Regions from separate parts of the Homo sapiens genome. Here region 2 is linked to region 1. Evidence: fine-mapped expression QTL. Tissue or cell type: whole blood. Region 1 holds a variant in brackets; the other region holds the start of a gene. All regions are shown on one strand. Distances are from middle to middle.

Region 1 (8,000 bases):
AAGTCTTACTCCAAGCCAGCTGGGCGTGGTGGCTCACGCCTGTAATCCCAGCACTTTGGGAGGCCAAGGCGGGAGGATCACGGGGTCAGGAGATCGAGACCATCCTGGCTAACACAGTGAAACCCCGTCTCTACTAAAAATACAAAAAAAAAAAAAAAAAAAAAAAGTCTTGCTCCAAGCCACATATTTGTCTTTAGAAAAACAGTTCATCAGACAAGCCCAGAGAAATAGCACTGATTGAAACCAAGCTTGCGAGAAAATAAATCAGTAAAAGAATTTCCTATCTTGCCTCCTCTCTCTCGCAGTCCAGCTTCTTTAGCTGCTTCCTGATGTTTTCTTCCCTGACTTGTTGAATCGCAAAGTGCAGTGCAGCAGCTGAGAGCCAGTCCGGGTTGGGTGCTGGGGAGGCAGCCTCAGGGGAGAGGAAACTGGGACAGAGAGAACGGGGTCATTGCAGGGCCTTACAACCATACAACCACGCCATAGAAACCAAGTCCTTATTCCCACCTGTCACCTTTGGGGCCTGCCTTTCCATCAGAGGACAGAGAAGGGTTTCAGGACCATCAGAAACTAGGTCTGCATCCCCCAGGTCCACGTGAGAGTGTGGGCAGGTGCTGGTGCTGCCCCCACAGCATCCTGGCGTTCTGAGAGCTGCTGACTGAGCAGGCAGCTGGCCTGGTCCTGTCTACCTTGCCCTGTGCTCTTGGGCCCCAGCTGCCTACATTTTGGAAGAAGAGGCCTCATTTTCCTCAGTTGCCCATGCCTGGCCCTGTGGATCAGGCATTCCCTCCTACAACAGAGAACAAAGGACTGCCTGGCTCTGGCCCCAGTGTGGTGTCTGAGTTTTCTGGCTGGTTAAAAAATTGGTAGGAAATTAATGAAACAATGCTGTGGTTTAAGAGACTTTAAATAAGCTGGGCATGACGGTTCACATCTGCAATCATAGCACTTCAGGAGGATCGCTTAAGCCCAGCAGTTTGAGATCTGCCTGGGCAACACAGTGAGACTCAATCTCAAATAAACAAAAACGAGGCAGGGCGTGGTGGTTCACGCCTGTAATCCCAGCACTTTGGGAGGCTGAGGCAGGCAGATCACCTGAGGTCGGGAGTTCGAGACCAGCCTGACCAACGTGGAGAAACCCTGTCTCTACTAAAAATACAAAATTAGCCAGGCATGGTGGCTCACGCCTGTAATCCCAGCTACTCAGGAGACTGAGGCAGGAGGATCGCTTGAACCTGGGAGGCGGAGGTCATGGTGAGCCGAGATCGTGCCATCTCACTCTAGGGTGGGTGACAAGAGTGAAACTCTGTCTCAAACAAAACAAAACAAAAAACAAAACTTCAGACAATCTGATCTGTGTTTGTAGAATTAGAACTGGAGGTGTGACCTGCTTTCTCCTTTTTTGAGATGGAGTTTCTCTCTCATTGCCCATGCTGGACTACAATGGCATGATCTCGGCTCACTGCAACCTCCACCTCCTGGGTTCAAGCAATTCTCCTGCCTCAGCCTCCTGAGTAGCTGGGACTACAGGCGCACACTATCACACCCAGCTCATTTCTGTATTTTCAGTAGAGATTGTTTCACATGTTGGCCAGGCTGGTCTCAAACTCCTGACCTCAGGTGATCCACCTGCCTTGGCCTCCCAAAGTGCTGGGATTACAGGTGTGCGCCACCGCGCCGGGGCCCTCTTCTCTTCTTTCAGCAGACGGCGAGCAGCCAAACCCTGAGGGGACCCGGTGTGGCATCAGTGATTCAAAACTAGTCACAAAGTAAGGTGTTCTCCAAGGAGGCAGGATGGGTACTAGCAGTGCCCTCTGACGACCCCTTAAGAACACGGCACCCACATTCAGCAGGTGGAGTGGCTGTCAGCTCTGTGGTCCTCAGAAGGGTGTGTGAGCCTGGATTGCGCCAGGAGCTTGATGGTTTGCAAGGACCCGTGAATATCTGACTGGGGTCGACAGGTCAGGGTAGGCTGAGAATCTGCATCCCTGAGGTCCCCATGACACTGACCCTACCAGCACGCGGTGCACTCTAGGAGCCCACATTAGATTTAAGAGGAAGGGGAGCAGGTGCAAAGGAATCACTCGAGCTCCTCACTCAGACGGGAGCCTGGGAGAGGCCGTTCCTCACTCAGACGAGACACTGGCAGAGGCTGTTTTTTTTTTTGTTTTTTTTCTGGACAGAGTCTTGCTCTATTGGCCGTTGGAGTGATCTCGGCTCACTGGAAACTCCACCTCCTGGGTTCAACTGATTCTCCTGCCTCGGCCTCCCCAGTAGTTGGGATTACAGGCGCCCACCACCACGAGAACTCGGTTCTTTTCTCCCTGCTCACACGAGAGGCTGCCCACACCGCTTCTCTCAAGCAAGCCAGGGTGTTTAGGAGATGACCTTGAGCAGGTCCCGAAGTGCATCTGGGCGGGCACACCCCATCTCACCACCCACACGTACTCGCTGGCAAACTGCCGGCCTTCTTGTAGCTTCTGCAGTTCCCGGGGCAGCGGGCTCTGGCAGTGTCTCCTCCACCGGCAGAGCAGCACAGGCTCCAGGCTCGGCCACCACACCTATGGAGAGAGCACCAGCACACAGATGAGGGTGGCTGAGATGGACACACCTCCGCTGCCCCAGCCATGACAAGCCCCCAGTGCTCCTACAGGCCACTACAGGCCCACACTCGCCCTGCGCTCTGGAACTCCAAAGCCAGTATTTTTTACGTCAATTAAGGCTCAAAGCAGTTCCATGAGGCATTTATTACCCACACTCATGGAAGACGTGGAATTTGGAGAAGGAAGAGCCTGGCCTAACGCAACAGTGAAGGGACCACACTCCCCTGAGCTGGGAACGAAACAGTGAAGGGACCACAGTCCCCTGAGCTGGGAATGAAACAGTGAAGGGACCACACTCCTCTGAGCTGGGAACAAAACAGTGAAGGGACCACACTCCTCTGAGCTGGGAACAAAACAGTGAAGGGACCACACTCCTCTGAGCTGGGAACGAAACAGTGAAGGGACCACACTGCCCTGAGCTGGGAACGAAACAGTGAAGGGACCACACTCCTCTGAGCTGGGAACAAAACAGTGAAGGGACCACACTGCCCTGAGCTGGGAACGAAACAGTGAAGGGACCACACTCCTCTGAGCTGGGAACAAAACAGTGAAGGGACCACACTGCCCTGAGCTGGGAACAAAACAGTGAAGGGACCACACTCCTCTGAGCTGGGAACAAAACAGTGAAGGGACCACACTGCCCTGAGCTGGGAACGAAACAGTGAAGGGACCACACTCCTCTGAGCTGGGAACGAAACAGTGAAGAGACCACACTGCCCTGAGCTGGGAATGCCTGGTCCTTGGATGCCCTCAGCTGAGAG[G/A]TGGCGTTCTAAACACCGAAGAGTTCATTTCTCACGAATTCCACCAACTGAGCTACAACTCGGTGCAAATGCAGCCTGCTTGGGGAGCTCCCTGGGGAACATGCCGTGCTGCGGAGAAAAAGGCCCTCCTGTCCCTGATGACCGAGAAGGAAGGGCGACAGCTGTGGTCTTCAGGACTAAGTGAGCCGCCAGGGAAGTGAGGGAAATGCTGCCCTCCTCCCACTCTCGGGACCCTGGGCTGCTAGGGGAGCCTGCTGAGCTCTGGCGGGAGCTGAGGTGAAGTCTCTGCTCCGAAGTCCCAAGAAAGCATAGTCAGGCGCAAGTGGGCCACAGTCATGCTCTCGTGACGGGGCACAGGCAGCCACCGTACAGCCTCCAGCCAGTGCACAACCCAAGACCGTGAACAAACAAGCCCTGCACCCCTGTGGACATGAAGGTGCCCGTGGGGTCTGAGTGGGGTCCACAGGGGAGAAGTCCTGCGGGTGCCATGGTGACGGCGGTGGGGGCAGGGACGGTTCTGGGAACTCAGGATGTGCGGCCCTCATCTGCTATGAGCTGGCATCTTTAACTGTGGCTTCCATGTCTCCTGATGCATTTTCCCTGAGATGGTAACACCCGTGATGGAGACGTGCTGCAGAGATGCCAGAGGCAGCTGTGGAGTCTCCCACTCATCCCCAAAACAAAACACCAAACAAGACAGCTGACCCACCAGAGCAGAGGTCAAAATTAAGGGGCATTTCGTCTGGCACTTGGCCAGTATGAAGTCGACCATCAGGGAGGGGTCTCTGCTCCGCAGACAGGCGTTCAGGAGGCCCTGCAGGAGAGAACGCAGCAGGAGGTCAGCGGTTTGTGAGGACCCACAACTAGTAGAGTGAAGGAACTCACAGGAAGCTGACAGGAGGATCCACCCACGGCGTTCTGAGAAGGCCACGAGAGGGGCTGAGGGAGCATCTCACCCTGAAGAAGTGGGCAGTGATGTCCTGTGTCAGGGCACCTCCGTGGGAGCAGAAGTTTCTCTGCAAAAGAGTTCAAGGCAGGTAAGAAAAGCCCACAGGAAGAGAGGCGAGACCAACATGCAGAGTGGCTGCTGTGGATTCAGTTTTGAGAAAAACACTCGCTAAGGCTTGGCGTGGCCACCATGGATGGTGCTCCTGGGCTGACCGGGCCTGGCGCCCTGGCTGTGCTGTCCTGAAACTTAACGGCTTCCCTGGGCGGCCAGATCCTGCAGCCCACCAGCTCTGGCCCAAACAGTCTTGTAGGCTCCAGGAAGAAGCCAGGGAGGCACAAGCAGCCGCAGGGAAGGGGACGCACCCGGAGCGTAGAACTGTGGTGAGGACGACACTAATACCAAGGGCCAACCATCCTCTGGTCCCTTCACTAACCAAGTGCTGTCTATGGTGTTTTCCTGTCTGTCGGCTGTCACGTGCCAACTGAGAGCTTTCTGAAAAACAGCCATTCATAAGAATTCAAAGGAGACCATAGTGATTTTCTGAAAGCTTTTGCTAGTCTCACGTCCTCTGCTTTCCTTGTCACATTTTGAAGTGCTGCACAAGGCCGGGCTCACACCTGTAATCCCAGCACTTTGGGAGGCCAAGGCGGGTGGATCACGAGGTCAGGAGTTCAAGACCAGACTGACCAACATGGTAAAACGTCATCTCTACTAAAAATACAAAACTTAGCCGGTCATGGCGGCAGGCACCTGTAGTCCCAGCTACTCAGGAGGCTGAGGCAGGAGAATCGCTTGAACCTGGGAGGCGGAGGTTGCAGGGTGAGCCAAGATTTCACTGCTGCACTCCAGCCTGGGCGACAGAGCAAGACTCTGTCTCAAAAAATAAATAAATAAATAAATAAATAAAAATATAAAATGCTGCACAGCTGGCATGGAACCTGAATTCCATCTCTCACATTTGTGCATCTTCAAAAACAAGAAAAAGGCCTTCGGGAGCAGAAGCTGCTCTCTGTAGAGTGGGAGGGGCTGGTATCCGTCTCCCCAGCTCTGACCAACTGGGTCCCTACGCTGCCCGTCCCCACAGCGAGTGTCACTTCTTTTTATTTGAGACAAGAGTTTCGCTCTGTCACCCAGGCTGGAGTGTAGTGGTGGGATCTTGGCTCAGTGCAACTCTGCCTCCTGGGCTCAATTACTCCTCCTGACCCAGCCTCTCAAGTAGGTGGGAGTACAGGCGTGCACCACCATACCCAGCTAATTTTTCTATTTTTTGTAGAAACAGGGTTTTGTCATGTTGCCCAGGCTGGTCTCGAACTCCTGGGCTCAAGTGATCCCCCACCTTTCCAGAGTGCTGGGATTACGGGCGTGAGCCACCGCACCCAGCCTGCTGGTTAAGATCACCCTGCAACTCACGCTGGGCAGTGTCTAAAATGGAAGATAACTGGGCTGCCTGGCAGGCAACAGCGGTAGTCAGATCACCACAAGGCTTTTTTTACACATGAAGCATGTTGAGATTAGAAATAAATGAACCGAGGTGCGTGGCACACAAAATGGTCTGTACGATTCCATGTGTCAAAATCATTAAAACTTGAGGGAAACTAAAGGAACTCAAACTTGGGAGAAGGCAACCTACAGCTGGTTTGGTGATGTGCTGGTCGCCGTCCTGGCTGTGGGTGGGGTCCTCCCTCACATGGCATTCCAGACACTGTTCCCTATTTGACTTTGAACCCTTTCCTCAGTAATTCACACGGTCAGTACACGCATGGAGGCTGCAAGAGCTGCTGTTAGCGCCACAGGCACTGACAGATCGGACGGACACGTGCACACGGGGCACCTACCATCTCAGAGTTGACCAAGTGGAAGAACTGCTCGCATCTGGCAGTGATGGGCTGTTCTGCCTGGAAGCTGCTGCCGCAGAGGACAGACGAAGGCAGGCGGAGGAGGATCCTGGAAAGAAGGGGCTGTATTGGTGGCGACAGCACAGCGTACACTCTGCTCCTTCCCAAGGGCTCAGACTCTCAGAGCAGCAACCACCACCCTGAAACCCAGGGCCACTGTTGGAACCAGAGCCTTGGCCTGTGTCCCTCTGTCCCATCCAAAGCCTGCACTCTGAGCCCACCTCCCCTATACTGTGTTTGGCCCACTGCATTCAAAATGTGTTACCAAACAAACAACTTTTAACAGTTACATAATAACCAACAACTTCTGACAGTTACACGATAACCAAGTGGATGACGCACCAGTCTGTCTAGTGAAGCAATTCCCTATGACTGTAAAATTAAATGACTCCACGCTGCTTCTTATAAATGCAGCCGCCGTGGGCATTTCTGAACACTTTTCCCTACTTTCACAAGAGCTCCTTCTGCGACGTCCCTCCACGTCTGAGCAGGAAGGTTTTGTTGTTGTTGTTGAGACAGAGTCTCGCTCTGTTGCCCAGGCTGGTGTGCAATGGCGTGATCTCGGCTCACTGAAACCTCTGCCTCCCAGGTTCACACCACTCTCCTGCCTCAGTCTCCCGAGTAGCTGGGATTACAGGTGCCCGCCACCACACCTAGCTAAATTTTTTTGTATTTTTTTTGTATTTTTAGTAGACATGGCGTTTCGCCATGTTGGTCAGGCTGGTCTCAAACTCCTGACCTCAGGTGATCCACTCACCTCAGCCTCCCAAAATGCTAGGATTACAGGCATGAACCACCTCGCTTGGCTGGAAGGTTTTAATCAAAAGTACTTTCAACCCTCCAGATCCTCTTCTCCGTGGCATGTGCCACAGAAATGGACAGGCTTGGGGTGGGGACACACAGACAAGTAAGTAACGGGAAACAAACTCACTACAAAGAACCTCTAGGACCGTCATGAGATGCTGCCCTGCCCAGGTGGTGCTGCCCTGCCCAGGTGGTAGTAGGTGTTACCGTTTGTACATTAGCAGCTCCCTCTGTCTCTGAAGGCTGGCAGCCACGCTCCACCCGCTTGTCAGAGCCTGGAGCCGTCTGCGGAAAATCTCAAAGAGGAAGTGCTCCTGGGAAGGGGTGTGGCCGAGAGGCACTATGAGGTCTTGCTGCAGCTCCAGGTCAGCTACCATCTCCTGAAAAAGAGCAGTATGCTGGCACAGGAAGGCCTCGGGGCTCACTGCCCAGCCAGTCGGGGACCCAGACGTCAGGGGTCAGGGAGAGGTCTCCACAGTGGACAGGGCAAGAAGGAACAAGTGGGGCAAGCTATTTCAATTGGAAATCACTTTGAAATTGCAAATATAGAACAGTGCAGGCCGGGTGCTGTGGCTCACGTCTGTAATGCCAGCACTTTGGGAGGCCGAGGCAGGCAGATTCCTTGAGCCCAGGAGTTACAGTACTACTTATCAACTACTTATCAATTAAGAAAAAACAGCTGGGCGTGGTGGCTCATGCCTGTAATCCCAGCACTTTGGGAGGCCAAGGCAGGAGGATCACGAGGTCAGGAGATGGAGACCATCCTGGCTAACATGGTGAAACCCTGTCGCTACTAAAAAATACAAAAAAATTAGCTGGGCATGGTGGCGGGTGCCTGTAGTCCCAGCGACTCAGGCGGCTGAGGCAGGAGAATGGCGTGAACCCGGGAGGTGGAGCTTGCAGTGAGCCCAGATCGCACCACTGCACTTCAGACTGGGCAACAGAGTGAGACTCCGTCTCAAAAAAAAACAAACAAAAAAAAACAGCC
Region 2 (8,163 bases), 25 kb before region 1:
CCTCTGTCTTCTGGGACTTTGCTCTCCCCAGGGGATCCTCTGCCACTCCTCCACCCAACTCCTCAATCTTGGAGCGCCAGAGCTCAGCCGAGCTCACCGGCTCCCTAGGGAGCTGGGGCAACTGTTAGCTCCCCCTGACCTGTGTGATCCTACGTCCAGTGGCTGCCCCGACCTCTGTGATCCCACGTCCAGGGGCTCCCCCGACCTCTGTGATCCCACGTCCAGTGGCTCCCCCGACCTCTGTGCTCCCACGTCCAGTGGCTCCCCCGACCTCTGTGCTCCCACGTCCAGTGGCTCCCCCGACCTCTGTGCTCCCACGTCCAGTGGGTCCCCCTGACCTCTGTGATCCCACGTCCAGTGGCTCCCCCTGACCTCTGTGCTCTATGTCCAGTGGCTCCCCCTGACCTCTGTGATCCTTTGTGCAGCGGCTGCTGGCCTCTCAAACTTAATGTGTTCATTGCGGAACTTGCTATTCCTCTCCTTGCCAGTTTGCTCCTGCCCCATCTGCCTCCTGCAAGTCTGCTCTGTTCCACCTTCAGGACGCACCCCGAGGCCGTTTACTGCTCCCATCCTGGGTGGTCTGGCCACTGCCATCCTCAGTCCTCACCTGAGGCTCCACTCCCAGGCTGTCCTCTCCCTCAAAGCTCAAAGTCTCTTCAAGTTTCCCTGCACACCAGAACGGCCCCAGTTCCACCCAAGGCATGCACACAGCCCCACCCCGCCCACTCCTATTTCAGGGCCTTTGCACACCCCACAGCTGGAATGCTGCCCCACGTCTGTGCCGCTCACTGGAGCCAGTGTCTTGCCACACCCCAGTCTCCATCTTCTTATCCACAACGCTGGTCCCTTCCTGCCACTATATCACACTGAGTGTGGGCTGGTCCACCTACTACAAATGGTCAGGCTAGAAGGATACAAGAGACCCCCGCCGAAGCCTGGCACCCATCAAGGGCTAGGATGCCCACAATTTGTCCAGCATGGAGGAAGCAGCAGGGCTCAGCCATGCCTTTTTCTTTTTCTTTTCTTTTTTTTTTTTTTGAGACGGAGTTTCGCTCTTGTTCCAGGCTGGAGTACAATGGGGTGATCTCGGCTCACTGCAACCTCTGCTCCCGGGTTCAAGCAATTCTCCTGCCTCAGCCTCCCGAGTAGCTGGGACTACAGACACCCGCCACCAGGCCCAGCTGATTTTTTAGATTTTTAGTAGAGACGGGGTTTCACCATGTTAGCCAGGATGGTTTCGATCTCCTGACCTCAGGTGATAGCCCGCCTCTGCCTCCCACAGTGCTGGGATTACAGGCGTGAGCCACCGCGCCCGGCTGGCTGAGCCGTACCTTTAGTGGTTTCCACTTCTTCTAGTAACACCTGGGAGATATAGTGGATGCTCCTCAGGTATTCCGTGTATGCCTCCTGTGTCCAGGAAAGAGAAAGAGTGGGGTCAGGCCAGTGGAGGGAAGTGACTCCATTATTCCGGCCAGGTGCCCTTGTGGGATAAGCAAGGAACACCACCACCTGCTTATCTCTGAGATACACCCAGAGACATTGAGCCTGCGGTGGTTAGCTGCAGCCGGAACACGGTTTTCTGCGCAGGGCACAGGCAGCATCGCTGCTCTCCAGACTTGGAAAAGACATCAGGACCTGAGAGAGAGAGAGAGCCAGGGACGAGCTGGACCTCATTTTCTCCTCTGACTGCCTTTCTCTCCAGCACAGGAACTGATATTCTCATTCAGTGGGCCTGGGGAAGTGACCTCAGCAGTTTGCTGTCATTTTTCATTCTATGCAATGTTTCCTTCTTGTGCAACTCAAGGGTGATTCATTCAGTGGCTTAAAAAAATACTTTTCTGAGAGGATAAAGGGAGTGATACTGGAAGTTTTCAAATCACTTCCCGGTTTAAGTTCCGAGAAATCCCTTTCCCAGAACCTGCGAGTTACGTATTTCCAGTGCACACAGGAGCCTAGAACTGTTACCTTTCAAGGCTGTGTGACCCCTCTGACAAGGCACAGGTCATTGGAACCACAGAATGGTGGTTTGTTTTGTTTTGTTGAGACAGAGTCTCACTCTGTCGCCCAGGCTGGAGTGCAGTGGCAGGATCTCGAGTCACTGCAACCTCCGCCTCCTGGGTTCAAGTGATTCTCATCCCTCAGCCTCCCAAGGAGCTAGGATTACAGGTGTGCACCGCCACACCCAGCTAATTTTTGTATTTTTAGTAGAGACGGGGTTTCACCACGTTGGCCAGGCTGGTCTCAAACTCCTCACCTCAGGTGATCCACCGCCTGGGCCTCCCAAAGTGTCAGGATTACAGGCGTGAACCACAGCGCCCAGCAATATGCTATGTTTTTTTGTTTTATCCCTAGCTGTTAAGTTTCCTATCTTTAAGTCTATGCCTCAGAGAGAAAGACGAAATATAATCCAGGCAGGATTTCTGACTTGCGGGGGCACCTGCTGCCCTAAAAACCAACTTGGGGAAAGCAGCAGATTCAGGAACGAGGCTTCTCCTAGGCACAGGCAGGCTCCTTCCCTCCTTGGGCAGCCGGGTGTGGCTGGGCCAGCTTCTCTACCTGGTCGCCAACCTTAGATTCGGCCCCATCTCAGGAACGGGCCACACCCCTCCGGCCTGCTTTTCCTTCCTAAGACGACTGCAAACAGCATCACAAATGAGCAGGTATGTGGCCTTCTCTGCATGCCGTCCCCTGTGGCAACCGGATTAAATCTACCATCTCTGCCCAGAAAAATGCACGAACGCACGGACCTGCCCGTCACTCGGATTTTGGAAGGTGGCCTGGCGGACCCTCCTGCTACATCTCCTCTACAGGTGGAGCCCAGGCTGTGATGCACCGGCTCAGCGAGCGGAGTGGAAAGCCAAGGTCCGCAGGATCTGAGCTGTCCAAGGTCACTGCACGCCCGGCTGCGCCCCGCCCCCGTCCTCGCCCGGGAACCGCGGCCCGGGATCCCGGCTGGCGCCCGCTCCCAAGTCTCCAGCCCGAGCCGGCCCCGTCCTCGCCCTCCCCGGGCGGGGGTCCCTCCAGGGGCCACCCTCAGCGGCCAAGCCCCGCCCCCGCCCCGCCTCACCCGGGGCCGGTTGCCGGTGTCCAGCTCGATGGCCCCGTTGGCAAGCTTCATGGCGCTCTGCAGCGGCTTCACCGTGCCGTCCCCGGCCGCAGCGGCCATGGCGCCGAGCGGGGGAGGCGGCGGCGGTAGCCGAGGGGCTGGACGGGCGACCGGAGGCCCGGAACGCAGCCGGCGCTGGTGCTGGAGCCGCCCGAGCAGCGGACCGCAGGAAGGGACGCGGCCGCACTTCCGGCGACGGGCCCCCTCCGCGCGTACTGCGGGCCCCACGGGTGTTAGTGGCGGGGGCGGCAGAGTCCGGGTGGGTTGTCGCGACGGAGCCGGGCCTCTTCGCCGTCTTGAGACGGGGCTGGCGAGAAGGGCCCCTCACGGAGTTGCCATGGGCGTCTAACCGCGGCAGCCAGGCCCCTCTCTACGTGAGACCCCGGCCCCCCTCCCCTTTCTGCAGCCCGCCCGCCACCTGCGCGCCGCGTGGCCTCCGCCGGCGCCTGCCCGCCCCGCGCCTCCGTCTCCCACGGTAAGAGGCGGTGAGGGCCGCGTCGCCTCTCCCTGGAGGACTCGTCGTGAGGTGTCGGCGAGCCCCTCCGCCCACCGCCCCGCCCCAGGCCAGCGCTCCATTGGCGACAGAGGCGGGCACGGCCGCCCTCGGGCCCGAGAGGGGAGCGGTACGAGCGGGGGCGCTGGCACCGCGGGTGGAACCTCGGCCGGCGGGGTCCCGCCCCTGGCCCCTGGCCCGCCCCGCCCGCCTCGCTTTGCTTCTCGCTCCGCCCCTCCCCCGCCCCGCCTCGCTTCCAGCGCGCCGAGCGGAGCCTAACGCCGGGTCCTCTAGGAACCTCGGGCCGGGCAGCACCCGCGGGATTCTGCTGGCGTCCTCCGCTGCCATGAAGCGGGACCGGCTGGGCCGCTTCCTGTCTCCTGGGTCGTCCCGACAGTGCGGGGCCTCGGACGGCGGCGGCGGCGTCAGCCGGACTCGGGGCCGCCCTTCCCTTAGCGGTGGGCCGAGGGTGGACGGGGCGACGGCGCGGCGCGCCTGGGGCCCGGTGGGGTCCTGCGGGGACGCGGGCGAGGACGGCGCGGACGAGGCAGGTGGGTCCGCGGCCCGGGCGTGGCGGGTTGGGGTCGCGGCAGGGGTTGCTCGTGGGAGGAGCCGCACTGACGCCCGGAAGCCGGCGCGGCCTCTCCTCCACCCGGCCAAGGGCGTAGCGGACTCGGGGCTGCGTCGGGATAGGCGCTGGGCGGCCGGCTCGGTTTTCCTCGCGCTCCGTGACGCCGGCGTCGCCGGCCCGGCCTCCCCGGCCGCGGGCTCGGCCAGAAGGGACCCGGCGTGAGGAGCGCTGTCACCGCGGGCAGGTCGCCCTGGGGTGCCCGCGCGTGGGAATCGCCCTCCCCTGCTTCGTGCCCTCGCGGAGCCGGAAAGGAGGCGGCACCTGCAATTGGCAGACAGGAAACCGCGGCGTTTCCTGGAGGGCGCAGCGCCTGCCCCGGGTCTCGCGGTCGCTGGGAGGAGGGTGCAGTTCCAGGTTTCACTCTTGAAGTTGCTTCGCTGGAGAGGCCTTAGAGGCCTTTGAAATTTGAAAGATTTCTTGGACCAGCGGCCACATCCCCCACAGGGCGGCTTGTCCCGCCGAGAGCCGCGCGCCCGAGCCGCTTGCTGTGTCCGGGAGCCGCGCGAAGGGCGCTGCAGGCGCTGCCCTCGGACCTGGAGTCCGGGACGCCCTGTGCTCAGGAGCCTCCTTTGCCAGCTGCTAACACTTCCTGCCGCTCTGTGCAGGAGCAGGCCGGGCTCTCGCCATGGGTCACTGTCGCCTCTGCCACGGGAAGTTTTCCTCGAGAAGCCTGCGCAGCATCTCCGAGAGGGCGCCTGGAGCGAGCATGGAGAGGCCATCCGCAGAGGAGCGCGTGCTCGTACGGGACTTCCAGCGCCTGCTTGGTGTGGCTGTCCGCCAGGACCCCACCTTGTCTCCGTTTGTCTGCAAGAGCTGCCACGCCCAGTTCTACCAGTGCCACAGCCTTCTCAAGTCCTTCCTGCAGAGGGTCAACGCCTCCCCGGCTGGTCGCCGGAAGCCTTGTGCAAAGTACGCCCTAGTCTGTTCAGAGCACGTTCAGGCTGTCAGTACTGCAGTGTGACGGGTGTTGAGAGAGGGACAGGGCGTGCCTCCGCGGGAGCCTCTGGGTGGGGGGAATGGGCCATGCCCGGGTTCAGTGCCAACAGCCCTGGGACTGTTGTGGAGAGATGAACTGGGAGGAGCTGGGGTGAGGGAAGAGAAAGTTGCCTATGGGGACCGCTGAGGTTTGAGATCTCGAGAGGGTCCCGTACGACGAGCGCTGTGAACCTCCGCCTGCTTGTCCTGCTCATGGCCACACTGATCCTTTGCAGGGTCGGTGCCCAGCCCCCAACAGGGGCAGAGGAGGGAGCGTGTCTGGGTGAGTCCTCCCCCGGTGGAGGGTGGGCTGGGTGCCGACCAGCCGTGGATCTGACATCTCTGTTGACTCTCTGCAGTGGATCTGATCACATCCAGCCCCCAGTGCCTGCACGGCTTGGTGGGGTGGGTGCATGGACATGCGGCCAGCTGCGGGGCCCTGCCCCACCTTCAGAGGACACTGTCCTCCGAGTACTGCGGCGTCATCCAGGTCGTGTGGGGCTGCGACCAGGGCCACGACTACACCATGGATACCAGCTCCAGCTGCAAGGCCTTCTTGCTGGACAGTGCGCTGGCAGTCAAGTGGCCATGGGACAAAGAGACGGCGCCACGGCTGCCCCAGCACCGAGGGTGGAACCCTGGGGATGCCCCTCAGACCTCCCAGGGTAGAGGGACAGGGACCCCAGTTGGGGCTGAGACCAAGACCCTGCCCAGCACGGATGTGGCCCAGCCTCCTTCGGACAGCGACGCGGTGGGGCCCAGGTCGGGCTTCCCACCTCAGCCAAGCCTGCCCCTTTGCAGGGCCCCAGGTAGGAGGCACCTCTTGCTGGTGCTAGACCAGGATGTGTGCTCCTCAGTGGGGCAGGGTTTTCAGCAGAAAGTGAATGTCTCCACTGCTCTAGGTGGTGGCTGGGGTGTGGTGTGAGAAGGAGCAGAGCTTGGGGCTTCTGCCTGCGGCTGCTCACCACATCCAGAGAGCAGGGAGGGGCGGCCAGCCTGTCTCCGCCTCTTGCTCCTCTGTGAGCAGGGCTCTGTTCCAGCAGTTTCTGTGGAGACACGCTCATCAGCCGTCGAGTCTTTTTCTAAGCCTGTGCTTGGGGCTGAGGGGACTGAGGAAGAGGGAAGAATAGGGCCTTGTCTGTGGATGTGGGAGAAAAGAATGGCCGTTGCCTCTGCGGCTGCTGCCCTGGGCCAGCTGCAGGTCATTTCCTGGCACTCAGCCAGCCGCCTGGTGACACCCTGGTGTGGGCCAGTGTGGCGCAGCTTTCTCTGCTGACAGGCTGAGGGGAAACACAAGGCCCTTGTTTGGGCCCCAGAACCCATAGCACTGTGGGCTGGTGCAGCTGCTCCTGGATGTTGTTTTAGGAGGGCCAGGGCCAGTTTCCCTCCGGCCTCTTGTCCTGTGTGTGCTCTGTGCACCTGTCCCCACCTGAGCACTCAGTTCCCACTTTGAGTCTTGAGGGGAGCTTCCGAAAAGCGTAGCTACCTGTAATCCCAGCACTTTGGGAGGCTGAGGTGGGTGGATCACTTGAGGTCACGAGATCAAGACCAACCTGGCCAACATAGCGAAACCCCATCGCTAATAAAAATACAAAAACTAGCCAGGTATGGTGGTGGGCATCTGTAATCCCAGCTACTCTGGAGGCTGAGGCACGAGAATCACTTCAGCCTGGGAGGCGGAAGTTGCAGTGAGCCGACATCGCACAACCGTACTCCAGCCTGGGTGACAGAGCAAGACTCTGTCCCAAACAGAAACACAGCTACCCAGATAGTTTAGCTAGATACGGGTGCACAGATGAGACAGTGCGGCTCGGGGGCCTCAGGTAGGAACGGGATTGTGAGTGTCACATCTTAGAGCTGCTTGGCTCTGTAAACTTGTATGCAGTGTGTTGAGAACAATTCTATCTATCTGTGTATCTATCTACCTACCTACCTATCTATCTTCCTACTTCTTTGTCTCTCTCTATCTACCTACCTATCTGTATATCTATGTATCTACTTATCTACCTATTTATCTATTTATTTACCTACTTATCTATCTATCTATGTGTTTATTTATTTTTGAGACAGAGTCTCGTTTTGTAGCCCAGGCTGGAGTGCGGTGGTGCCATCTTGGCTCACCGCTACCTCAGCCTCCCGAGTAGCTGGGATGACAGGCACATGCCACCACGCCCACCTAATTTTTGTATTTTTAGTAGAGATGGGGTTTCACCATGTGGGCCAGGCTTGGTCTCGAACTCCTGACCTCGTGATCCACCTGCCTCAGCCTCCCGAGTAGCTGGGATGACGGGCACGTGCCACCACGCCCACCTAATTTTTGTATTTTTAGTAGAGATGGGGTTTCACCATGTTGGCCAGGCTTGGTCTCGAACTCCTGACCTCGTGATCCACCTGCCTCAGCCTCCCGAGTAGCTGGGATGATGGGCACGCGCCACTACGCCCACCTAATTTTTGTATTTTTAGTAGAGATGGGGTTTCACCATGTTGGCCAGGCTTGGTCTTGAACTCCTGACCTCGTGATCCACCTGCATCAGCCTCCCAGAATGCTGGGATTACAGGTGTGAACCACCGCGCCCAGCCAAGAACAATACTTTTTAAAACTTATTTTAGGCCAAGTGCAGTGGTTCACGCCTGTAATCCCAGCACTCTGGGATGCTGAGGTAGGCGGATCACGGGGTCAGGAGATCGAGACCATCCTGACTAACACGGTGAAACCCCATCTCTACTAAAAATACAAAAAATTAGCTGGATGTGGCTGTGGTTGCCTGTAGGCCCAGCTACTTGGGAGGCTGAGGCAGGAGAATCGCTTGACCCTGGGAGGCGGAGATTGCAGTGAGCTGAGATTCTACCACTACGCTCTGGCCTGACCGACAGAGCAAGATTCTGTCTAAAAAAGAAAAAAACAAAACAAAGAAAACTTATTTTAAGTAGAGACAGGGTCTCACTCTTTTGCCCAGG

The links. PIP is the estimated chance that this variant, and not a neighbour inherited with it, causes the effect.
Region 2: ZNF276 starts here. The variant in region 1 is fine-mapped to the expression of ZNF276 in whole blood (INTERVAL, PIP above 0.99).

What each region holds. Positions count from the first base shown.
Region 1 is chr16:89,742,511-89,750,510 of GRCh38, forward strand. It overlaps FANCA (FA complementation group A), which reads right to left. Exons shown (of 43, transcript NM_000135.4): 32 at 7,220-7,392; 33 at 6,149-6,257; 34 at 4,321-4,380; 35 at 4,074-4,178; 36 at 2,449-2,561; 37 at 290-428. Among named protein-coding and RNA genes, the nearest start is that of ZNF276, 25 kb to the left of the region's middle. RefSeq lists enhancers at 959-1,128, 1,625-1,794, 4,191-4,360. The variant G/A (reference allele first, on the strand shown) is at 3,365.
Region 2 is chr16:89,717,696-89,725,858 of GRCh38, forward strand. ZNF276 (zinc finger protein 276) reads left to right here and starts at 3,842. Exons shown (of 11, transcript NM_001113525.2): 1 at 3,842-4,150; 2 at 4,836-5,139; 3 at 5,442-5,488; 4 at 5,565-6,014. The coding sequence starts at 3,946. It overlaps VPS9D1 (VPS9 domain containing 1), which reads right to left and starts at 3,203. Exons shown (of 15, transcript NM_004913.3): 1 at 3,068-3,203; 2 at 1,332-1,407. The coding sequence starts at 3,166. It overlaps VPS9D1-AS1 (VPS9D1 antisense RNA 1), which reads left to right. Exons shown (of 4, transcript NR_036480.1): 4 at 1-470. RefSeq lists an enhancer at 1,415-1,584, a cis regulatory region at 1,500 and silencers at 2,810-3,929, 4,010-4,469.